3 separate regions of the Homo sapiens genome follow, and all the other regions are linked to region 3. The links come from fine-mapping of genetic effects on gene expression. A gene starts in region 3. Each other region holds a variant in brackets. All regions are shown on one strand. Distances are from middle to middle.

Region 1 (4,132 bases), 32 kb after region 3:
GACGGGGCGGCTGGCCGGGCGGGGGGCTGACTCCCCCACCTCCCTCCTGGACGGGGCGGCTGGCCGGGCAGAGGGGCTCCTCACTTCCCAGTAGGGGCGGCCGGGCAGAGGCGCCCCTCACCTCCCGGACGGGGCGGCTGGCCGGGCAGGGGGCTGACCCCCAACCTCCCTCCCGGACGGGGCGGCTCGCCTGGCGGGGGGCTGACCCCCCCACCTCCCTCCCGGACAGGGCGGCTGGCCGGGCGGGGGGCTGACTCCCCCACCTCCCTCCCGGACGGGGCGGCTGGCCGGGCAGAGGGGCTCCTCACTTCCCAGTAGGGGCGGCCGGGCAGAGGTGCCCCTCACCTCCCGGACGGGGCGGCTGGCCGGGCAGGGGGCTGACCCCCAACCTCCCTCCCGGACGGGGCGGCTCGCCTGGCGGGGGGCTCACCCCCCCACCTCCCTCCCGAACGGGGCGGCTGGCCGGGCGGGGGGCTGAACCCCCACCTCCCTCCCGGACGGGGCGGCTGGCCGGGCGGGGGGCTGACCCCCCCCACCTCCCTCCCGGACGGGGCGGCTGGCCGGGCGGGGGGCTGACCCCCCCCACCTCCCTCCCGGACGGGGCGGCTGGCCGGGCGGGGGGCTGACTCCCCCACCTCCCTCCCGGACGGGGCGGCTGGCCGGGCAGAGGGGCTCCTCACTTCCCAGTAGGGGCGGCCGGGCAGAGGCGCCCCTCACCTCCCGGATGGGGCGGCTGGCCGGGTGGGGGGCTGACCCCCCACCTCCCTCCTGGATGGGGCGGCTGGCCTGGCGGGGGCTGACCCCCACCTCCCTCCCGGACAGGGTGGCTGCCGGGCGGAGACGCTCCTCACTTCCCAGACGGGGTGGCAGCCGGGCGGAGGGTCTCCTCACTTCTCAGACAGGGTGGCCAGGCAGAGACGCTCCTCACCTCCCAGACAGGGTCGCGGCCGGCCGAGGCACTCCTCACATCCCAGACGGGGCAGCGGGGCAGAGGCGCTCCCCACATCTCAGACGATGGGCGGCCGGGCAGAGACGCTCCTCACTTCCTAGATGGGATGGCGGCCGGGAAGAGGCGCTCCTCACTTCCTAGGTGGGATGGCGGCCGGGCAGAGACGCTCCTCACTTTCCAGACTGGGCAGCCAGGCAAAGGGGCTCCTCACATCCCAGATGATGGGCGGCCAGGCAGAGACGCTCCTCACTTCCCAGACGGGGTAGCGGCTGGGCAGAGGCTGCAATCTCGGCACTTTGGGGGGCCAAGGCAGGCGGCTGGGAGGTGGAGGTTGTAGCGAGCCGAGATCACGCCGCTGCACTCCAGCCTGGGCACCATTGAGCACTGAGTTAACGAGACTCCGTCTGCAATCCCGGCACCTCGGGAGGCCGAGGCTGGCGGATCACTCGCGGTTAGGAGCTGGAGACCAGCCCGGCCATCACAGCGAAACCCCGTCTCCACCAAAAAAAAAACGAAAACCAGTCAGGCGTGCAGGCACTCGGCAGGCTGAGGCAGGAGAATCAGGCAGGGAGGTTGCAGTGAGCCGAGATGGCAGCAGCACAGTCCAGCTTCGGCTCGGCATGAGAGGGAGACCGTGGAAAGAGAGGGAGAGGGAGACCGTGGGGAGAGGGAGACCGTGGGGAGAGGGAGAGGGACTGGGACTGATCTGCCCTTCTTTGGCTTCATTCTGACCACCTCCTGCCTCGTGTGATCTACCTGGCAGCACTGCTTGCAGCTCCACAAACCTGAGCCCAGAGTAGGCTCACACTGCCTCCTCTGTCTGGCGAGCCCAGCCCCCTTGCCCTTTTGCCTGGCTAACTCCAGCTTGTTCTTTGGTACTTGGAGCAAACTTTAAGACCTTCCGCAGAGGGGGTGAGACCACATTCACGTGTCCCCCTGATTCCTGTGCATATCACTCCCCTTGCATGTGTGCATTAGTTTCTAACAATCTCCTGACATGTCTGTCTCCCTCACTAGCTCTGACCTTGAGAGCCTTAGTGACTTTGTGTCCGTGTTCCCCAGCACGGGGCCTGGTGCATACTAGAAGCTCAATACATGTTTC[T/TTGAA]TGAATGAATGAATGAATGAATGAATGGATGGATGAATCGATGAATGAATGAAGAATGATGCAAGCTCTTTATTATAAGAAATGCATCCTGAGCTGTGCATGGTGGCTTACACCTTTAATCCCAGTGACTCAGGAGGCTGAGGCAGGGGGAATGCTGGAGCCCAGGAGTTTGAGGCTGCAGTGAGTTACAGTCGCGCCACTGCACTCCAGCCTGGGCTACAGAGTGAGACCCCATCTCAAAAAAATTTTTACAAAAGCATACTTTATAGTGCTCAGCACATATTTGCTCAATAAATATTTATTAGATGATTCTGTGTGAAGTAAAAACAGGATTTTTTTGAAGTGTTATATTTATTCTATATTTTCTTTATGTCCTGAGTCGATTTCTAAGGATAGAACCTAGGGAAGAGGGGGCACAGGTAAATCCGGCAAGCAGCAGGGGTTGAGAACCACTGGTCCAGCAGCTGGTTTCAGATTAAAATAAAAACAGGATCGTGGACATCATAATGGTAGAAGCTTGTACATGCCATATGATCTCAGCAATATGAATGCTAATTGAGAGGAACAAAAGAAAATGTCTCAACATATTATTGCTGGTTATTTGGGGGTGATAGGATATAGGTTACTTATGTTTTTCCTTTTTATGTTTTTATTATATAATTTTTATTTTAAAAATTTTTTAAATTTTTAAATTTTTTACTTTTTTGAGACGGAGTCTGGCTCTGTTGCCCAGGCTGGAGTGCAGTGGCGCGATCTCGGCTCATTAAAAGCTCTGCCTCCTGGGTTCATGCCATTCTCCTGCCTCAGCCTCCGGAGTAGCTGGGACTACAGGTGCCCGCCACCACGCCCAACTAATTTTTTGTACTTTTAGTAGAGACGGGGTTTCACCTTGTTAGCCAGGATGGTCTCCATCTCCTGACCTCGTGATCCGCCCTCCTTGGCCTCCCAAAGTGCTGGGATTACAGGCATGAGCCACTGCGCCCAGCCTATTTTTTTTAAATTTAACATATGCCATCTTTTTTTTTTTTTTTGAGATGGAGTCTTGCCGTCACCCAGTCTGGAGTGCAGTGGCACAATCTCGGCTTGCTGCAACCTCCACCTCTTGGGCTCAAGTGATCCTCCTGCCTCAGCCTCCTGAGCAGCTGGGATTACAGGCGTGCACCACCACGCCTGGCTAATTTTTGTATTTTCGTAGAGGTGAGGTTTCCGCCCAGCTAATTTTTGTACTTTATGTAGAGACGAGGTTTCACCATGTTGGCCAGGCAGGTCTCAAACTCCTGACCTCAAGTGATCTGCCTGCCTCAGCCTCTCAAAGTGCTGGAATTCCAAGCGTGAGTCACCAAGCCCGGCCGACATATGTCATCTTTTAAATGTAAAAAATAAGAAAAGTGGTTGGACCAGAGACTCCTGACTGTGCTTGGGATCACTGGGTCATGGAGCCAGTCCCTGAGCTTCAGCCTTTGGTTAGTCCCCCAGGGGCGATTCTAGGTATCGGGTCCATTCCTGACCCTCTGGCCCTTTCTGAGCACCAGCATCCTGGTGCTCCGAGAAACTGTCTCGTGCCCTTGGAAACTGTGATAAACAGTTCCTAGGCCCACAACAGTCTCCCCTGTGGTTTCCAGGTCCCCAGGTGAGGGCGGAGCATGAGGAATGTGACAGGCCATGGTGTAATGGGATTTTGCTAAGAATTTACCACCAGGAGGTAGTCTCCAAATGGGTCCCAGAATAGAAAAACTGGCCTGTGGTGTGATGAGGAGTGGGACCACAGACCTGGGGGCCAAGACCAGCAGGAAGACTCAGCAACAAGGCATTGTGATCCTGGGGGCTGGGTAGTTGGCCATCCTGGCAGGCAGTTGGAGGTGGGCAGGGACAGCCAGGTGGGACACTGAGGGTTAGAAAGGTGAGAGAGTCAAGGAGTAGATAGTGGGGGGCTGACTGGGCCGGGAGAGCAGCCAGTGGAGGGAGCACCTTGGGTCAAGGCGCTCTCAGTCTGCCATCTCTTGGCCCTGGAGCAAACCAAGCAGTTGGAGTTGTCTGCAGGGAGATTTGTAAGTTCACTTGTTTGCTGTTTCATGCCATCT
Region 2 (4,132 bases), 22 kb after region 3:
TTCCTGTATGAGTCATGCCTACCGGCCCGAGGCTGCCTCCAGCTCACCTGCAGCTTCCTTTCTCCAGGAAGGCCTGGCTTCTATGTGTGTCTTCCTTGCCCTCCAGCCCGTTTGGCTATTTCTGTTCATTTTCCCTCCACGGAGCATCTGGCAGAGCTGCCTGCTCTCTCCCACCCCAAGCCAGATTTTGTCTTCTCCTGCCTGCTCGTTTCCAATCTCAGACCCCTTGGAGCATTATTTTTTCTAAAGTGCAGCAGCTGTGCATCTCCCTGGTCTGCCCAGCTGTTCTTGTCGTTGACTGGAGAGTTTATGTCACTTGTGACAATAAATAGGAAATGAGAATGAGAGGGTTGCCAGACTGCCCTTCCAGCTGCCTGAATTCCTCTCGGGAAACAAGGAGAGAAATAAGCACAATAAGGCTAACACTTAGAAGTACTTCCCATGTTCACTTAATGTTTTCCAGATGTAGTACCAAACCTTTTCCATGTATTATCTCATTTAATCTTTGTAGTAACTCAATGAAGTAAGTTGTATGATCATCCTCTCACAGCAGGGAACACAGAGGCCCAGAGAGGTTGTGTAATTTGCCCAACATCATCAATGAGTAAGTAGCAGAACCAGACCAGAACCTGTATCAGTCTGACTCCCAGGGCACTCTCCTAATCACTAGAGGAGGAGACGGCCATGGGCCAGGCATCTCCGGAGCCCACTTGAACTTCAAGTTTTCGTTTTCTCTAGTTGCCTGTTGCAAATAATAACGTGCTCAAAGGAGACCTCATAGTGTCATTCTCAGAGCCATCCTTTGTTCTCCTTTCTCTGTATCCCAAACAGCAAAAAGAACTTTTGGATGGTAGAGGTTGTAGTATTTCTCTTTGCTTGGAGTCCCCCTACCAGCATCCCATTTTATAGTCTTCCGTAAAGCTTTAAGAACTTCACGACATTATCCTTGCAAATAAGGGGCTACAGAGGAAGAAATAATAGCCTAATCTTGACTTTTCTCTGACGATCTTTCCACTTAAATCATGTTCCCTTCTCTCCTGAGCATGCTTGAAATGCCCCAAGATGCCTGTTCTACACATTCTGTATTGACAGGGAACATTTCTGCTCTTTGTGGTAAACCTTTTGTGTGCTATTATTGTCCGTGAGTGGTGATTGTCAACTGGGGAGAGAGAGGGAGAATGAATCACAGTCTCTGGGGATTGGGGCAAGTGTGAAATTTGAAAAGCATATTCAGGATCATAATCTCATTTTAGCTTTGGAAAAATATATTGTTTTTTAAATGTAGACAATTAAAGAAAGTGGACTTGGACAAAATCTTGCCTGATATTGCAGGAATTCTCAAGTGAGGCATAGCAGTTTTAGGTGGGGGTGTATATGGGAAGCCTGTATGTTGATTAAAAGGGGGTATGTGCTTTAAGAGGCTAAGAAGCTGTCTCCCAACAAGAGACTGTATGTGTCCTGTCATTCTGTCTCCCACAGCCCTGCAGGTGTTTACTGGAGGTCTCTGAGGATGGTGCATACTATATGGGGCATCAAAAAAGACCCAAGGGCTTGGGGCTTGGGGCAAGTGCACTAAACACCACTGGTTTACTAACTGGGACCTTGTAGCTTAGTGGTTAAGAGCACAGGTTCGGCTCAGACCATGGCAGAGCTTAAATCCAAGCTTTACTGCTTTGTGGTAGTATTCCTTAACCTCTAAATGTCTCAGTTCCTTCATCTGTTACATAGATGGTGGTAGTACCTACCCTATCATGTAACTGTGGTGATTATGTGGGATAATGCCTGGCACCTGGCTGGTAGTCAGTGATGGTGGATGCTGTTTCTTACCCATCCTACCTGCTTTGTCTCAGTTGGATCAAACCCTCATGGGGCTCTGGGTGGCTGACCCAATGGCTTTGTCGAAATGAAAGTGTTATGTGGTCCTTGAGGTCCTGGTTCAAGGCTAATCTGAAGCATCTGTCTGCATAAAGCCCAGATGAGCATTGAGTTTCTCCATGCCCAGTGCCGTGCTTGATCCTGGGTGTGCAGCTGAGCAAAATAGATACGGTCCTTCCCTCCCAGGTCCCACAGAATAAC[A/G]GGGAAACACATGATACTCAGGTAATCAAAATGTAAGACATACTACAAAGGTAAGAATAAGGTACTGGGAGAGAATTATGGGGTAGGAGAAATGAATTATTTTGGAATGGAGGGTCAGGAAGCCTTCCCTGAAAAAGAGACACCTACGCTGACACCTGGAGACTGGGACTGAGGGAGCCGTGTTTGTCTCATGTGTCCCCACCCCTGGCCAGGGCTGCCTGCTGGTCCATGTACCACCTTTGGGTGAATTAGAGAAAGATGCCTCCTCTGGGCAGGGGCACAGCTGGAGAGAGAAAGGGAAATAAGCAAGTGGCCACCCCGGTTTCTGCCCTGTTGGGGTAAGGAGGTGTTTTCCCTTTCCAGGAGAAAGGAGAGAGAGGCCGTGTCCAGGACACTGTCCGGAGCTGCTAAACTGGCCAGCAAGTGCTCAGAGTCTGGTTTTCATGGGCTGCAGTTGGTGACTGTCTGCTGTGACCTTCTTCCCATAGCAGATATCTCTTCCACAATGTTCTATAAAGAGAGAGGACCACTAGGAGGGCAGGAGGGAGAGAGGAGGGAGATCTGCTGGGGAAGCCGGGCCACAGACTGAGGCCCTGGGCCTGCCAGCTCCCATCTCGCCTCCCCAGCACGAGTGCCTACTTCATGCTGAGTTCTGAGCTAACCTTGTTATTTAATCTGTAGTGTTTTGTTTTGTTTGCCTTCTCACCTGGGACCCGCCTTTCATTCCACAGGTAGGGGTGATGAACTCAATGCAAATGATGGTTGGTAAGGTGAGACTCTGCTGGGTGGGCAGCTCCCTGGCTGGTGGAGGGCACGCTTGAGGAAGTGGCATTTGAGTTCACTTCTAGGTGCTTGGATGCCTGGCACTCATGAGTGGAAGTTTCCAGGAGTTACTTTTCTGTTCCCCCTGAGGGAGATCTCCTTTCCCAAAGGAGAGTGGTCTGACGTGGGAACGGGCTGCCTCTGAGAGCCCAGCCTCCAGGGGTGGTGAGGGTCACTCCCAGGGATTCTTGCGTCAGCTGGGGCACACGCTGCAGAGCCTTCCACGACCTCTCTGACTCCAGTGGGATCTGGCTCTGCAAAAGTTAAGCCCTTCTGCCATAGCCTGGTAGAGGCTTTTTCTAAATCAAGCTGGGAGGGCCACCCTCAGGCAGGCAGGAGCAGCAGCCTCCAGACTAACCAGATCCTGGAGCTCTGTGTTCTGGGTCCCTGATCTCCCTGAAGCCCCAGCTACGGAGTTTGGTCCAGATTTCCCCCAGCAGCAGCTGGGCAGCAGTGTGTGCCTGGCCCCCTTTGGAGTGGGTCACACACCCACCTGGCCAGGCTCTGGCATGGAGGCTGGCACTAGAATGGGCTTCAGGGATAGCATGCACCTGTTTTGTGCTGCTGTTGTCAAGTAGCTGGCCTTGGGCTTCTTGGAACTACAGATGTTTGCGTCATTGGACTGATTGTCCTTTGACTTTTTCTTTGCCATACTGACTTTCTGTGGCCATATGGTTAGCTTTGGATACAGAGAGGTGTGAGGTGGTCCCACAGTGCCTGCCACAACATCAAGTTTCTATAGATGGGAGCCCTTCCGTAAACCTCAGAAGGTGGCAAGAGCATGTCTGACAGTGATTGGAATTGAGCTCTGCAAGACATAGACAAGATCACCTCTTCAACTCCAGAGTGTTGTGGCAGGGCACCAGAGCTGGAAAAGCCTGAAAGGTCATGTCCAGCTGCCCACGCAATGTGGGGTCGTTCCACTTAGCACCCTTGCCAGGCATTCAGCCAGACTTTCTTTGGGCGAGGCTAGCTTTTGAACGCACTGAATGCGTTGGCCTGTCTCTCTGTAGAGTGAGTGCCTGTGCCCTGTCTCATTGCCCACACCATGGCCTTGTGAGAGCAGCTCCCTCCGATCAGTGTGAACTTGGCTGAGCCCAAGTGTGCTTCCTTTGTGTCTCTCACTCACTGGTTCTGCCTGAGAAGTTTGTTTCCTTTAGGTAAAGTTTTCCTGTTATAGCTCTTGGGGTTTGAATTGGGTGACTTGTCTTACAGAGTGGTGAAGATCGGAGAC
Region 3 (4,132 bases):
GGAGGATGGCTTCAGTCCTGGAGTTAGAGACCAACCTAGGCAACATGGTGAAACCTCGTCACTACAATACAAAAATTAGCCGAGCGCAGTGGCACACTCCCTGTTGTCCCAGCTACTTCGGGAGGCTTGAGGCAGGAGGATTGCTTGAGCATAGGTCGAGGCTACAGTGAGCCATGATTTCACCACTGCACTCCAGCCTGGCAGACAGAGAGGGACCTTGTCTCAAAAAAAAAAAAAAAAAAAGAGAAGAATTTGCAGTCCTTATTCAAGATAAGTCCTTATTCAAGATAAGACATTCAAGATGTCTTTTCAAAATATGTTCTGAATCAAAAAAAAATCCAAAATTATTGTTTTCGTATCGCATAAATGTGAAAGACTCATCACAAATGACACTGATATAGTAATGTTCTATATCTTCGTAGGGGGTTGGATTGTATAGGTGTATGCATTAGTCAAAATCAGTGAACGTACACTTAAAGGTTTATATATTCCATTTTACATCAAAATAAACCGTCAACAAACTCTAGTCAATGACATGCATGCCAAAGTATTTAAAGGAAAGTGTACAGGTATCTGCAATTTAAATGGATGGATAGCTATATGATAAAGCAAGTAATATTAAAATGTTAATGGTAGGATAGATCCTAAGTGATGTGCTCCTTATAAAATTCTTTATACTTGGCTGGATATTCGAAAATTTTCATAATAAAATATGAGGGAAAATGACATTGGTAAGACACTGTACTTGTAAATTGTAAACACTGATAACACACTACATTTCATAAAATTGTAAGATGTTAAGTTTGGTGGCAGCACCAGGTATTTGCTCCTTGATGCTTCCAAACTACGCTGCACACACCTCTTACAGAATGGTTGCCTCTCCCAGCATACTATAAGTTCCTGGTGGGCACAGATCTAACCTAATTTGTATTTATATTCCTATTGCTTTGCATCATGTTTGGGGAATAATATGTATTCAACAATAGTGGCATGATTGAATTAAAGTGGAATACTGCTAACGAACAAAGTATTATATTTCTAGCAGATTCACTATTCTTTTCTTACATATTCTAAAGGTTAATACGCTCAATATCCAAGAGAAATGTGTCCTTACTTCTCTCCAAGCATACGAAATTTCCAAAGTTTTTTTAAAAAAACTACTCATTAGATAATTTTATATTGTTACTTAAACCCAAGATCTGAAGGCCTCCTAACATTCAATAACTTTTTAGTAGTTTTTTTTTTTTCCTAGAAGAGCAAAGTCTCAGAACTCCACGGAAGCCTGGAAATCGTTTTATTCTAATTTTAGATAAGCTGTCTGAACTAAGAGATCTCTGAACTGGTCAAAAGCAGGAAAGTGGGGGTCTGGGAAGAAGACAAAAACAAACGCCACATAAAACGTCATGGAGCAAACTAATCAAGAACTTTAGCAAGAAACGGAGAGAAAGTCTTAAGGAGGACACCCAGAACATCTCCAGCTCCTCCTGGCCCGTCTCCTCAACTCCTCTTAATTCCAGCCAGTCAGAGCGCGGGGCCATCTGCCACTCCCAGGATGCCACGCGACGGGAGCGGACGCTGCGAGGATGCACCTCCACACGTCAACCTCCCACAAACAGCATGGCTTCGTGGCGTGAGCACCCGGTTCGGACCTGAACGCCTGGGTCCGAGTCCCACCTCCCCCTCCTGCCTGGTCTGCAGCCCTGCGCAAGTCCTCTTGCCCTCGCTGAGCCTCAGTTTCCTCATCTGTAAAATGTAATGATTCCCTATAATTGGCTACAGGGAGATGAGAAGTGTAAATGGTTTTAAGGAAGACACAGGCAACTCTCTAACTTGTTACGGCTCTGAACCTCGCGGTGCTCACTAACCAGCCTTGAGACCAATCTCTCAAAGTCACCCCGCTCCTCCCTTCCCGCCCGGCGCCTGTACTGAGGCCGCTCCCTCCTGTTGGCCCCCATGCGGAAGGCGCGCGGCGCCGTCTGCCGTACCTGCAGCCACCTGGTCAGCGGGGCCCTCTTGCTGACCCACGACGAAGTCGTGCACGAGGCCCCATAGGGCACCCATAGGCGCCGCCGCCTCCACAGCCGCGGCAGCGGCCATAACGCGAACTAGAGACCGTGGGAGGGGATATGGGCGGTGGCTCGAGACGGGCTCTCCGCGCATGCGCCTCCCGAGCCAATCTCCGGGGAAGCGCAAGGGGGCGGGGCGCCGGGGTCACGTGCCTGCCGGCTTCTGCCTAGGCAGTTCCAGGGAGGGGCGGGGCCTGAAATGGGGCGGTGGCACCGAGAGGGAAGGCGGCTGCTGGGCACGCAGCCGGAGGCGATTGAGGGCGAATAATTCCCAGCCCGGCTCCCCGGGAGACGGGCTGCGGGGCGGGCACCTGGCTGGGTGGGGAGAGGGGCGGTACGCACCACGGGGGAAGCCAATGAGAAAATCAGGCCCAGCCCTAGGGGGCGGTGCTGTCGGTCACATGCGCACCTGGGGCGGGTGGTGGCGGCGGCGCGGGCACCGCGAGCCGGCGGAAGGGAGAGGGGCCGGCCTGGGGCGGGGTTAGGCAGGTGAGTGACAGGCTCCAGGGGGCCGGCCCCTGCCTGGTGCCCCGAGCGAGCCGGGAGTAGCTGCGGCGGTGCCCGCCCCCTCTCTCCGCCCCTCCAGCGGAGCTGGTCTCCGGCCGGGCACCGTCGCGGGCCCCCCTGGCCCGGCCACCTGGGACCGTGCTGGGGAGTCTGCCACTTCCCTCTCTCCCCTGGCCCGCAAAGTTTTGGCGGAGCCATCGCTGGGGCTGAGCGCGCCCCCGGGGGGAGATCGGGGAGCGCCCGATGCCGGGCGGCCGGAGCCATTGACCCGGGACGCCGCCGTCCGCTGAGCAGCCGACCACCCCGCCGCCTCCGGTGCATGGGGACTGGCTGAGGAGCCAGCATGGGCAACTGCGTGGGGAGACAGCGCCGGGAGAGGCCGGCAGCCCCGGGACACCCCCGCAAGCGAGCAGGTAACGATGGGGAAGGGAGCAGGGCCTCGGGCATCCCGCCAGTTGTCCCCCTCCTCGCCCGAGTCCTGGGCTTACCGATGGACTCCCCACTGGTGCTGGCGCTTGGGTTTCCCCGATGGGCTGCTCCGCAGCCAGAGGGGGCCGCTCCCCAGCGCCGGGCGGCCGGGGGAGCTGAGTTGGGGCAACTGCGAGCACTGAGCCGGCTGCGCGACCAACTCTCTCCAACTGGGTAGCTCCTGGTGGGGGTGGGGGCAGGAAATGTTTGCAGACCGCAGCGGGGCCGACGGATCGGGAGGAGGCCGGGGGCGAGGGCGCCGCTGGCCTGGCAGCTCCGGCCGGGGTCGGACGCCGGCCCGTCGGGGCACGGCGCGGGCAGCCAGGCGTCCCCAGAACTCGGAGCGAGCGAGGCGAGAACAGTCGCTCCTTCCAAAGACTGTGTCATTATCGAGCTGCAGATCGTGTCTGCGGGAATCCGACTTGCAAAGCAGCGCAGGACTCTGGGAAAGAAATCTTTATTTTTCCCGCAGGGGTTTTTAGAGCCTCTCGGCCGTCTGGGAGTCTATAAAAGATGGGGTGCGGGGTGAGAGTCACCCTTGGGATTGTTGGGATCCTTCCCAGCTTTGGGAGTGAGATCGCTCGCTGGTGATCCTCCAGGCCCGCGCAACGCTTTCTCACTTTCATGGTACACCCCGCCTGCCCTGGCATTTCGCCCCGGGAAGAGGTCTGTCGGTCATTTTTCTGGGTCTTACACTCACTTCCTTCTTTGAGGGTGTTGCAAGGACCCGCTGGGAATAATATCGTAGACTTGAGAGCTCAAACTTGTCTGGATTCCAGATGGACCCATCTCCTACTCTGTGTCAAAGCCCAGATCCTGAGAGGTTGAACACCTTGTCCAAAGTCACACAGCTAGTTAGGAGCTCACCTGGGGCTAGAACTCAGCCTCCTCTCCCACCCCATTGCCACATATCCCCTTATGTAAGAGGAGCCACAGGCAGAGTTGTTAATGAAGTGGAAACTCTAGTTGGAGTTTCCTGTCTCCCTTGACACCGAAGGTGTGTTGCTTGGGTTGCGGAAACTGGGAAGGAAGATGGGGGAACCAGGGGAAGCAGGGAAGGATGTCTGCATGGTGGACAGGATGACTTGTGG

Direction of the effects. Positions count from the first base shown, and alleles are read on the strand shown. Sizes are in standard deviations (SD) of each study's normalised expression.
For the expression in iPS cells of the gene that starts at base 2,135 in region 3, allele T in region 1 goes with a higher level than allele TTGAA (small effect, 0.39 SD a copy in HipSci).
In carriers of allele A in region 2, the expression in tibial nerve of the gene that starts at base 2,135 in region 3 tends to be higher than with G alone (small effect, 0.14 SD a copy in GTEx).

The links. PIP is the estimated chance that this variant, and not a neighbour inherited with it, causes the effect.
Region 1: its variant is the best candidate, but not a certain one, in a credible set for the expression of MMS19 in iPS cells (HipSci, PIP 0.76).
Region 2: its variant is the best candidate, but not a certain one, in a credible set for the expression of MMS19 in tibial nerve (GTEx, PIP 0.75).

The regions. Positions count from the first base shown.
Region 1 is chr10:97,528,149-97,532,280 of GRCh38, forward strand. All of the region lies in intron 1 of UBTD1 (ubiquitin domain containing 1), which reads left to right. Among named protein-coding and RNA genes, the nearest start is that of UBTD1, 31 kb to the left of the region's middle. The variant T/TTGAA (reference allele first, on the strand shown) is at 2,052.
Region 2 is chr10:97,518,400-97,522,531 of GRCh38, forward strand. The region is part of intron 1 of UBTD1 (ubiquitin domain containing 1); the gene reads left to right. Among named protein-coding and RNA genes, the nearest start is that of UBTD1, 22 kb to the left of the region's middle. The variant A/G (reference allele first, on the strand shown) is at 2,077.
Region 3 is chr10:97,496,288-97,500,419 of GRCh38, forward strand. MMS19 (MMS19 cytosolic iron-sulfur assembly component) reads right to left here and starts at 2,135. Exons shown (of 31, transcript NM_022362.5): 1 at 1,986-2,135. The coding sequence starts at 2,097. It overlaps UBTD1 (ubiquitin domain containing 1), which reads left to right and starts at 2,637. Exons shown (of 3, transcript NM_024954.5): 1 at 2,637-2,986. The coding sequence starts at 2,917. RefSeq lists enhancers at 1,260-1,790, 1,467-1,516, 1,877-2,046 and silencers at 2,287-3,046, 3,057-3,256.